Homo sapiens: one gene and its partner. The protein of the gene in region 1 purifies or fractionates together with the protein of each later gene. This does not show direct contact. Each region holds a gene or a part of one and is shown on either strand. Other genes may lie near its edges.

Region 1 (5,428 bases):
TTTGTCCTTCTCAGAGTATGGCTATGACACTGGCATATACAAGACAAACAAGTGCAGACTAAAAATTTTATTGCTCTTTAAAGCCTTAGGCCGTATGACAAAATGAAGAGACTGAAATGACAGCGGGGAGGAAGAAACAGAAGAAAGATAAGAATGAGGTGGTCAGGTTGGGGGAATTAAGCGAATATTCTCTTCCAGGGTGAGTCCTCACACTGGTCTCATGCCCATGATGAGTTGCACACCAAACACAGGCTGCTGACTTCCCTCCTGCACTAGTCAGTGAACTTGCAGACATAGGGTAACCTCACATTACAGTTATAATCTTTCCACCTCAGAAATGCTGGAGAGACAGAAGACATAAATGGAATGGGGCTGAGGAAGCTTGTGAATCCAATGAAGGGGCATCCCAGGTTTTAGCCTAGAAGTTAAAGCCTCTCCCTCACCTTCACCAGTGTCCCAATCCAGGAGAGAGATTCAAAGAAAGTGGAGAAGAGAGGAGATAAGAGAAGACACACTAACATTGTATTTTCTAGCTCAGGAAGATTTCCTGAAGGTCAGACCCAGGAATGGGGGATGAGATGGAAAACACTGGGAAGAGGCAGCTCCTCTGTTTCTTACCTGTGCTTCTCGACAGGCTCGCACAGTGGCCGGGGCTTGAGATGGTGGAGGGATTTCTCTCCCATGCAAAGTAATTCATCACATCACTGCTACTCCACTCCCAACCTTCTCCATTGGGCTCGGTGCCCTGTAGAGTAGAGGAGGTAGCCAGGTGAAGGGAATGGCCATTGCAGCTCTTCTTGCATGGCCCCTTAGCTGCAACACCTGATTTGCTCCCCAGCATGAGGAAAGTTGGTCTGCTATTCCAGATGCTGCCGGTGAGTAGGAAACTCTTCCTTGACTCCTCATTGCTATTGGAAAATTCCAGCCAATAAACATAAGACCTTTGGAACAACTCAAGGTAATATATTATTTGCAGAACAATAATTGATGTAGCATTTGTGATTAGCTTGTGAACCTCAAAAGTAATGTCAGTTCTGTATGGGGACAAAAATTGATCCTATCTTCATTAAGAGTTCCTTCAGAATAGTAGGCAAAGACTCCATGAAGCTCAGAGAATTGTTAACCCAGCCTCATATGAGAATTATGTAATACGCCTGAGGAAGGCAGATTGATTTTATCTGAAAGATAGAGACCTCCACAGAACTCAGATCTTCAGATGCTTCATGGCCTTCCCTTTCCCCCCAAATATTCCCCAGAATCTGAGCTCCAGTGCTCCCTGAAGTACTTCCTGGGCAGGCACAGGGGACAGGGAGTGGGCCTGGGCAACAATAGCACCTTGAGAGGTAACAGAGAGGGGAGGATATACTGGCACCTGTGTGGGGTCATGGAGCCCAATCCAGACGTATGAGTAGCTGTTACCAATGCTCTTCACCAGGGAGGACACGAAGGATCCCTCAGCCCCACTGAGCACAGACACCAGGTTTCCAGAGGGCCGCTTCTGGCAGGCCAGCTTTGAGGGCAACAAAGAGAATGAGAGGGAGCCTGAGACCTGCTGAGGGAGGGCAGGGCAAAGGTAGGTGGGAGGAGGACTGTGTGAAAGATAAACGTGTTCATCCTCATTCCCAAGGAACTCTCCTGAATGGAGACCCTCCTCCCCCTGAGACCGGTCACCTCCAACACCACATCTAACCACTCACATCTGCATCTGTCCAGGATTTTGGTGACAAAAACAAGGCATAGCAGTGGGAGCCATAGGCCTTGGAGCCTTTGGGACAGCGGATCCGTGCAGAGGGCAGTTCCCTCTGGGGTTCTTCACCTGAGGTGGAAGAAGAGGGGGGAGGGTAAAATGAAGAGTGGGGCTTGGGGTGGGAGATGACCTTGGGGAATACCTAGGAATGTCCTTGGGGAGGAAGACCACATTCCTGACACCCCTTCATCTTCCCTTATGTTTTCAGAAATTCTTTATCTCAAAATAGCCGTAGTAAATGGAGCACCATCCAGTCTCTTATTACCCTTTCCCCTTATTCAACCATTCAATACTCTCCTCACTCTGGGCTGTCTCTACATTGGGTCCTCCAATCATTGTCCCTCCCCACATCTCATTACTGACCCTCCAGTGTATATTAGAGTCCACTTTCCCACCAGTGTATATTAGAGTCCACTGACTAAATGGAAGCCATCTCATTCCACTGTTAGTGGACCACCATGGAGCCTCCCACTGCAAGTTAACCTGAAGGAAGGAGAGATGATGCAAGAACTGCAGGCAGGTTCATTAGACACCACGTCATTACCTCACATGACACACAGGAGCCTTCCTCCTCTTGTTAGCTCTGAGGATTCATAGGGAACCCAGTGCTAGAGGCAAAGCAATCTCACCTTGAACCTGAGACAGCAGCATGAGGCAGGAAAGCAGCATCCAAGATACACTGGGCAGGGCCATGGGAGGCAGCATAGTGTCTGCGACTTGAGGAGGCAATCAGGAGTCACTAAAGAAAGCGTGGTCAGTGGGAGAACACACAGATACCCCACTGCCTCATGTCATTTTCCTTCTCTAGTCCCCTAGGACTAAAGTGATCTTGGTCACATCCATCATCTTCTACAGTTCTGAATGAGTTGTGAATCTGTGTACTCTCCCATCCCCGAGCCCTCCCAGGACACCCTTGCTGAGTCTCAGAGTTCCTGTGCTCCCTGAGGAAGGGACCCTCCCATGTATTCTCCTGTGTCATGTGCAGTAGCTCCTCCCTGGGTCTCATCTTCTCTCAGCTCCCACTTACCTCTCTGGTGGGATATGGTATGGTTTGTCTGGTCAGGAAAGAGTGGGATTTTATAAGAGGATCTGGGGGAGGGACATTGGAGTGAAGAGTGACAATGAGTAGGCAGGACAGGGGTCATGGGGTGGGGTTGGCATGGACTCTTCCTGGCAAAGACTGGGGATTTTCCCAGATGTTGCCTCTTTCCTGTTGGCAGGCCAACACTTTCCCTAGGAAGAGGTGAAGTTTGCTTTTTCCTCTGCATCCTCCTTGTCAAAGGCCTGTGGCACCAAATGTGATATGAAATCTTCTAATGTGGACATCTGAAAGAGGAGTTCCTCTGGTGGGTTTCTTAAGAACCCACTTCTGGAGGCAAACCTATGTATTTCTTATTACCTTGCCTAGTAAGATTAAATAAATGTTAGGTGTTAAGTGAAGATTTACGGGAATTATAAGTATCATGGACAGTTGAGGACATAGATGGTACTGAAGCTAAGAGTAGGAGTGAGGGTTCAGGGCCATTATGCAAGCATGATAGCTAATTTTGATGAAACTTCAGAATTGTCTGACAAGTCAATACATGAGCCACAATCTTACAGAAAATCAGGTGAATGGACTTGTCTTTCCAGTCTTCAGCAAGAAAGAGCTTCCCCAGTGGAGAATGACAATGGCAATGTGATAGAATAAGAGGTAATGAAGGAAAACAAGACATAAGAAGGACTACAGTCAAATAATGAGGATCAAAGAAGAATGAATAATAGTTAAAGAAGGGAAGAGCAGCCATTGTGTAAAATCATAGGTCAGTTGGCCAGGTGCTGTGGCTCAGGTCTATAATCCCAGCACTTTGAGAGGCTGAGGTGGGAGGATCACCTGAAGCAAGGAGTTCAAGAGCAGCCTGGGCAACACATTAAGACCCTATCTCTACAATTTATATTTTAATTTAAGCCAGTTGCGGTGGTGTGTGCTTGTGGTCCTAGCTACTCAGCAGGCTGAGGTAGGAGGACCTTCAGTTGAACCCAGGAGTTCAAGGCTGCAGTAAGTTATGATCATCCCACTGCACTCCAGCTTAGGCAACAGAGTGAGAGCCTATCTCTAAATTTTTGTTTTGTGATGTTGTAAACATAATTCTGAATTGCATGTAAGTCTCTATTACATCAAAATGCTCACTACTTGTAGGTTGCTCATGAGCTTCCTTGCTGGACTGCCATTTGGCTGTACATTAAAAGCCCTTTTCATTGCATTCTTACTGGGCAAATGGTCAGCTTCATATGGGTATACTGGGAGAAGTTCTTTTAGTCATGTTTATTTTTGAGTTAGCAGTTTGGTGCCTCTGACAAGCATACTACATTGCCCATACACTGGTTCAGGTTCAGTTTGGCCAGTCCAGGAAAAAGTTAGGCTGGGAATTTCTACAGACCCTGACTCTCATGCTATTGTTGTAATATGCCAACTTGTATGCAGATGTTTATAGTAGGGGTCTGTGACGAGGTCATGAGATGTAGCTCATCCTTAATTCACGTCCTCAAAATTCAGTACCCAAAATTCAATGCAATTCCTCAAATAATATGAGAAGAAATATAGCCAGCAGATTATTTTGTTAAAAAGGATTTTTTTCCACAAAATTTATACAACAATATGTAAACACATGGAGGTACGGGGTAGAAGGTAACCAGAGGGTAGAATAGTTACCAGAGGCTGAGACGGGTGAGGGGAGATGAAAAGAGTTTAGTTCATCGTACAAACATACAGCTAGATAGGAGGAATATGTTCTAGCTTTTGATAGCACATAGGGTGACTATAGTTAACAACAATATGTTGTATATTTCAAGATACCTAGGAGAGAAGATTTGAAATGCTGACAGTTTATTATTAAAACTCACTTTTGTTCTTAATTGAAATAGTGTGACCTTTGTAATAAGCCTTAAGGTTATAAAATCCCTAAGTGCAATGTGAAATTTTCTTTGCAATGACACTCACTAAACTCACTAAAGTTGAGTTGTTTTTGTTTTATTTTTCATTGTTTCTTCATAACAATGCTTATTAACCAAGCACTGAGAAGTTTGTTTAAATATTATATTTCTTGAGCTGGTTTTGAGTTATATAAAAATCTACTTCTTAGGGATGACACAGGAATTCTTATTCTTGATGTAACCAAGGCTGAGTTTTAAGGAGCTTCCTTTGCCAAAAGATGTCCAATTTGTACTTTTATCCCTATTATCTTCTGAATCAGATATTTGCAGATAAGACTTAGTAGTCATTCTTAGAATTATAAAAGTGAAAACTGATCTCTTTGCAGGAGCCTAATATATTTGTTTCAAGGATGGTAAAATGTAGAGGTTTCCTGGAAGATGGCTCAGCAGGGTCCATGTCAAAAATAGCCTTGAACTGTATCTCACTGGAGATTTATCACTAAAGTGCACCCCTTTGAGATATATTAACCAGATGTCCAGAATGCCACTTTGGTCCTTTCATCTTATCCTAACACTGTCAGAAGAATTGGGAAAGGGATAAGATTAGGTGCTGAGCAACTATAAAACAGGAAAAAGGGACAAAACTTCAAAGCCCCTGAGGCCAATGAGGGAAGTTATTAACATCAAAGAACTGGAAAGCTGATAACATAGCTACTGAAATTTGGTCAATTATACGTAAGCCATGAACAGTAACTATCATATGACCTG
Region 2 (4,645 bases), on another chromosome or scaffold:
TGAGGTGAGAGGATTTCTTGAGGCCAGGAGCTCAAGACCAGTCTGGGCAACTTGGCAAGACCTTGTCTCTCCGAAAAGAAAAAAAAAAAAAAAAGCCAGGTGTGGTGGTGCACACCTGTAGTCCTAGCTAATTAGGAGGAAGAGGCAAGAGGACTGTTTGAGCCCAGAAGTCCGAGGCTGCAGTGAGCATGATCACACCACTGCACTCCAGACTGACTGACAGAGCAAGACCTTGTTTGTGGGGAAAAAAAAAAAAAAGGGTGCAGTGATGAAGCTCTAACATCAAAAAAAAAAAAATACACGTATGTACAGAGTGCTTAGTATTGTGCCTCACATAGAGCAGGTATTTGATAAATCTAGAGTGAATAGAGAATGAGTAAATGAAGAAGAGAAGGCCATTCAGTCAAGACATTTTCTCACTTGAGAAAACATGCTAAGAGATAGCAATGGTATGACAGGGTTAGGAAAAGTAGTTATGCCCAGGTGACATTCAACATTGGTAATTATGCTAATAGAAAAAAAACCCATTGGAATCCCTTAGTGAAAACCAAACAGGTTGAAAAGAAGCATAAAACAGGAAAAACAACATGCACTAACAATAGTCCCAGAAAAACAAAATACCTTGGGAAAAATTTTACTCTGAAATGAAGCACAAAATACGTTGTATGTTGAAGCTTTCAAAATTGTTTTCTCCCATGTCAGGAGACTTCCTAAAGTACATTTTTATCCAAGCTAGCATAAGTTTAAGAGGAAGCACAAAAAGAGGGACAAGATAGTATACAAAGTACTAAAAAATTTAGGTAGAAGCCAGGCACGGTGGCTCACGCCTGTAATCCCAGCACTTTGGGAGTCCGAGGCGGTGGATCACCTGAGGTTGGGAGTTCGAGACCAGCTTCACCAACGTGGAGAAACCTCGTCTCTACTAAAAATGCAAAATTAGCCGGGCATGGTGGCGCATGCCTGTAATCCCAGCTACTCCGGAGGCTGAGGCAGAAGAATCTGCTTGAACCTGGGAGGCGGAGGTTGCAGTGAGCCGAGATTGCGCCATTGCACTCCAGCCTGGGCAGTAAGAGCAAAACTCCGTCTCAAATTAAAAAAAGAAAAAATTTGCGTAGAAAAATGTTGACACTTCTATGGGAACCAGCAGAAACTCATCTTTAAATGGTAATGCAGTTCTAATCCCATTAAGACAAAAGTCTTCAAAGTAAAGTTACATTTGCCGGGTGCGGTGACTCACACCTGTAATCCCAGCACTTTGGGAGGCCAAGGCGGGCAGATCACATGAGGCCAGGAGTTTGAGGCCAGTCTGGTCAACATGGCGAAATTCCATCTCTATTAAAAACACAAAAATTAGCTGGGCTTGGTGGTGCATGGCTGTAATCCCAGCTACTCAGGAGGCTGAGGCACGAGAATCGCTTGAGTCTGGGAGGCAGAGGGTGCAGTAGGCCAAGATCATGCCACTGCACTATAGCCTTGGTGACAGAGTGAGACTCTGTCTCAAAATAATAACAATAAATAAAGTTATATTTTAACAAAAGGATTGACAACCAAAAACCATGCTTGTTTCAAGCAATATGTATTAATAATATAATAAAAATGCAAATACAACTATAAAGTGAGAATACTATTTGGAGTTCAAAACAGTAATGTCTGACCTATATGTAACACAACTGAAATATAAAGCATCTTTCCTCCTGGGCATGTTGTTTCCGCAGAAGTGTGGCCTCTGAAGAAAAATGAAAATAAAAGAAGCTGACCTAATAATTCTAGAGTGATTTCACCTGATGAACTGTTTCAAAGTAAGCAGATAAAAATCCAAGTGAGTGAAAACAAATCCAATTTGTAACAAAAATGTTAAAAACCTGATACTTTTAAGCTGAAGTCTTTTCCTGGTCCTTCATTTATTTACCTTCAAGGTTTCTGAACTAATCTTGAGATATTTTAGAATCAAATATCTGATTTTAACAGATATGTGACTGGTCTAATACATAGCTGATAACTACTAAGTAACGGAGTAACTAAGGTAAAACACAATTCTCTCTGGATTTGTTTCAAATTTCTTCTCCTGAAGACACGTGACATACAATTCACGATGTGACTTTGAGTTTGGGGCAGCGTTTGCAAACTGCGGTTCACAGGCCAAATTCAACCCACTGTGAAAGTTGAAAAACAATCAAAATAAGACTATTTTGTGACGTGAAAATTACATAAAATTCAAATATTGTTGTCCATAAATAAAATTTTATTGGAACACAGCCATACTCATTCGTTTACACATTTATTTTCTATGACTGCTTTTACACTGCAACAGCAGTTATGACGGTGATGACTGGACCCACACAACCTAAAATATTTATTATCTGGATTTATATGAAAAAAGTTTGCTGACCTCTGGTCTAGTGTGAACTAGAACAAGGAACTCAGAAATAGGAATTTAAGAGCTTGATCAACTACTTTTTATAAGCAATATTAGCCATTTAAAAATCAATTAAGAATTCTATGAAAGCTGATAAAAATGGGGAAACTATATTTCAAGCTGTGATATATTTAGTAAAATGTATAATTCTATGAATGCATCTGAAGTGTTCCACTAAATAACATCAGATTAACAACAGATAAAAGACTTGTGCTGGGCCGGGCTCCGTGGCTCACACCTGTAAATCCTAGCACTTTGGGAGGCGGAGGCAGGCGGATCATGAGGACAGGAGATCAAGACCATCCTGCCTAACGTGGTGAAACCCCCCTCTACTAAAAATACAAAAAATTAGCCAGGCATGGTGGCATGCACCTGTAGTCCCAGCTACTTAGGAGGCTGAGGCAGGAGAATCGCTTCAACTCAGGAGGCGGAGGTTGCAGTGTGCCAAGATTGCGCCACTGCACTCCAGCCTGGGGGACAAGAGCAAAACTCTGTCTCAAAAAAAAAAAAAAAAAAAGAAAAAGAAAAAAAGAAAAAAAGATTTGTGCCACAAAATGATATATTATTATTGAATCTGAGGGAGGAAATGGAAGTTATGTATAGGCCTTCCACATTTATGAGTTGTATTTTTCAAGAGATTCATGGACATTTAGCAAAATTATAGCAGGAACTACCTGACATGCAATTTAGGGAAATATGCATAAATTTCCACCTTTAAATGTTCGTAATTGTTGTCAAGAACCACTCATTTAATCATCTGAAAGAACTGTGGAAATTATATGCAGTAAATTAAACCAGACCATGAAGGTTATCTAAGTGTCCATCTGTTACAGCCTTCAAGTGTAGAGCAATGACTAATAACATAGTCATTTTTCTCCCTCCTCTTTCTTCTTTCCTTCCCCTTGCTTTTTAAATTCATCCTGCCCCTGTGTTTTGCCCCTGAATATCTGTCAATACTATTTGCATTTTGACTGAACCACATCAATGTGTAAATCCTGTAATGTAAGCTGATTATGTTTTTTCCCTCTAATTCTGGTACAGTGTCTAAAACAAGGCTAAGCATGAGAGCTTGACGAATGATTATGAAAACAACATGCCCAGAAGTCGATCCTCTGTTGTGTGTTATTAACATCTCCTACAAATATTCCAAGTCTGAATTTTATATGTAGAGACAATGCCTTACAACATCTACAATGCAAGACTGTCTATATGTAAAACTAATACTGTAAAGGTTTAACTTTGGTGTGAAAATAGAAAAAACACAGAACAAAAAAACCTGGGTACTTGGGTTTAAAGAAAAGATCCAAGGTGCTCCCCTACTCCATTTCCAGAAGGAATTCACCATGGATAAAGCAATATAATTTGAAGAATATACCATAAAATGATATTACAACAAAAATATTTACAAAGCTCATTTCAGCAATCTCAAAAAGAATAAGCACATTGATTCTAGGTGACAAAAGCTGTCACCAGTAAAAATTACAGGCTTATTTACAAAGAGTCTCTTGTCCTCTTTCCAAACGTAATTTATAAAATTAAATCCAAATATGGTTACAATAAAATGTTAGACACAGTTTTACAAGGACTACTAATGTAATTTTGAAAAGAGAAAAGCGGCATTTGCCAAATCTGTCAAAAGCCTGGACAGGAGTTTGACAAATCTGCCAGCAGATCAAGGTTCTTTTGATAAAGATCTCCTAGGTTGAGGTCTTCAAGGTGTGACTACGAAATATTAATAATTAATTGGTTAACTAACAAATACTTAATGAGTGCCTTCGCTGTATCCAGATACTACTCTAGGCCCTGAAACTAAAGCAAACAAGACAAACAAAATACCTGCTCACATGGAGCTCTTACAGTCTACTGCTGGGAAAAAGTAATTAATTTAACAAGGAAAAATAATAGTTGGTGCTAAGTGCTCTGCTGAGAATTATAATAACATAATAATTTAATAGATATTGTGATAATGTAATAGAGCACCTAGATAGTTACTCTAGACTGCCTGATCAGGAAGCGCCACTCTGAGTAGGTGACGTTTGAACTGAGTACTTAATGTTAAGACAGAGCCAGCTGGCCGGGCCTGGTGGCTCATGCCTGTAATCCCAGTGTTTTGGGAGGCTGAGGCGGGCGGATCAAGAGCTCAGGAGTTCGAGATCAGCCTGGTCAACATGGTGAAATCCCGTCTCTGCTAAATATACAAAAGTTAGCTGGGTGTGGTGGCAGGCGCCT

What was found.
Region 2: the proteins of REG3A (region 1) and CMSS1 purify together in Homo sapiens (affinity purification with mass spectrometry; one large-scale study listed by BioGRID and IntAct). This does not show direct contact.

Annotation. Positions count from the first base shown.
Region 1 is NC_000002.12:79,156,954-79,162,381, forward strand, and holds REG3A (regenerating islet-derived protein 3-alpha precursor), read right to left. Parts: upstream 2,801-5,428; 5' UTR 2,775-2,800; exon of another isoform or gene 2,487-2,774; 5' UTR 2,453-2,486; coding exon 2,377-2,452; intron 1,817-2,376; coding exon 1,698-1,816; intron 1,511-1,697; coding exon 1,373-1,510; intron 746-1,372; coding exon 619-745; intron 341-618; coding exon 273-340; 3' UTR 53-272; downstream 1-52. UniProt on the Homo sapiens protein: Acts as a hormone in response to different stimuli like anti-inflammatory signals, such as IL17A, or gut microbiome. Secreted by different cell types to activate its receptor EXTL3 and induce cell specific signaling pathways.
Region 2 is NC_000003.12:99,824,064-99,828,708, reverse strand, and holds part of CMSS1 (protein CMSS1), read right to left. Parts: intron 1-4,645.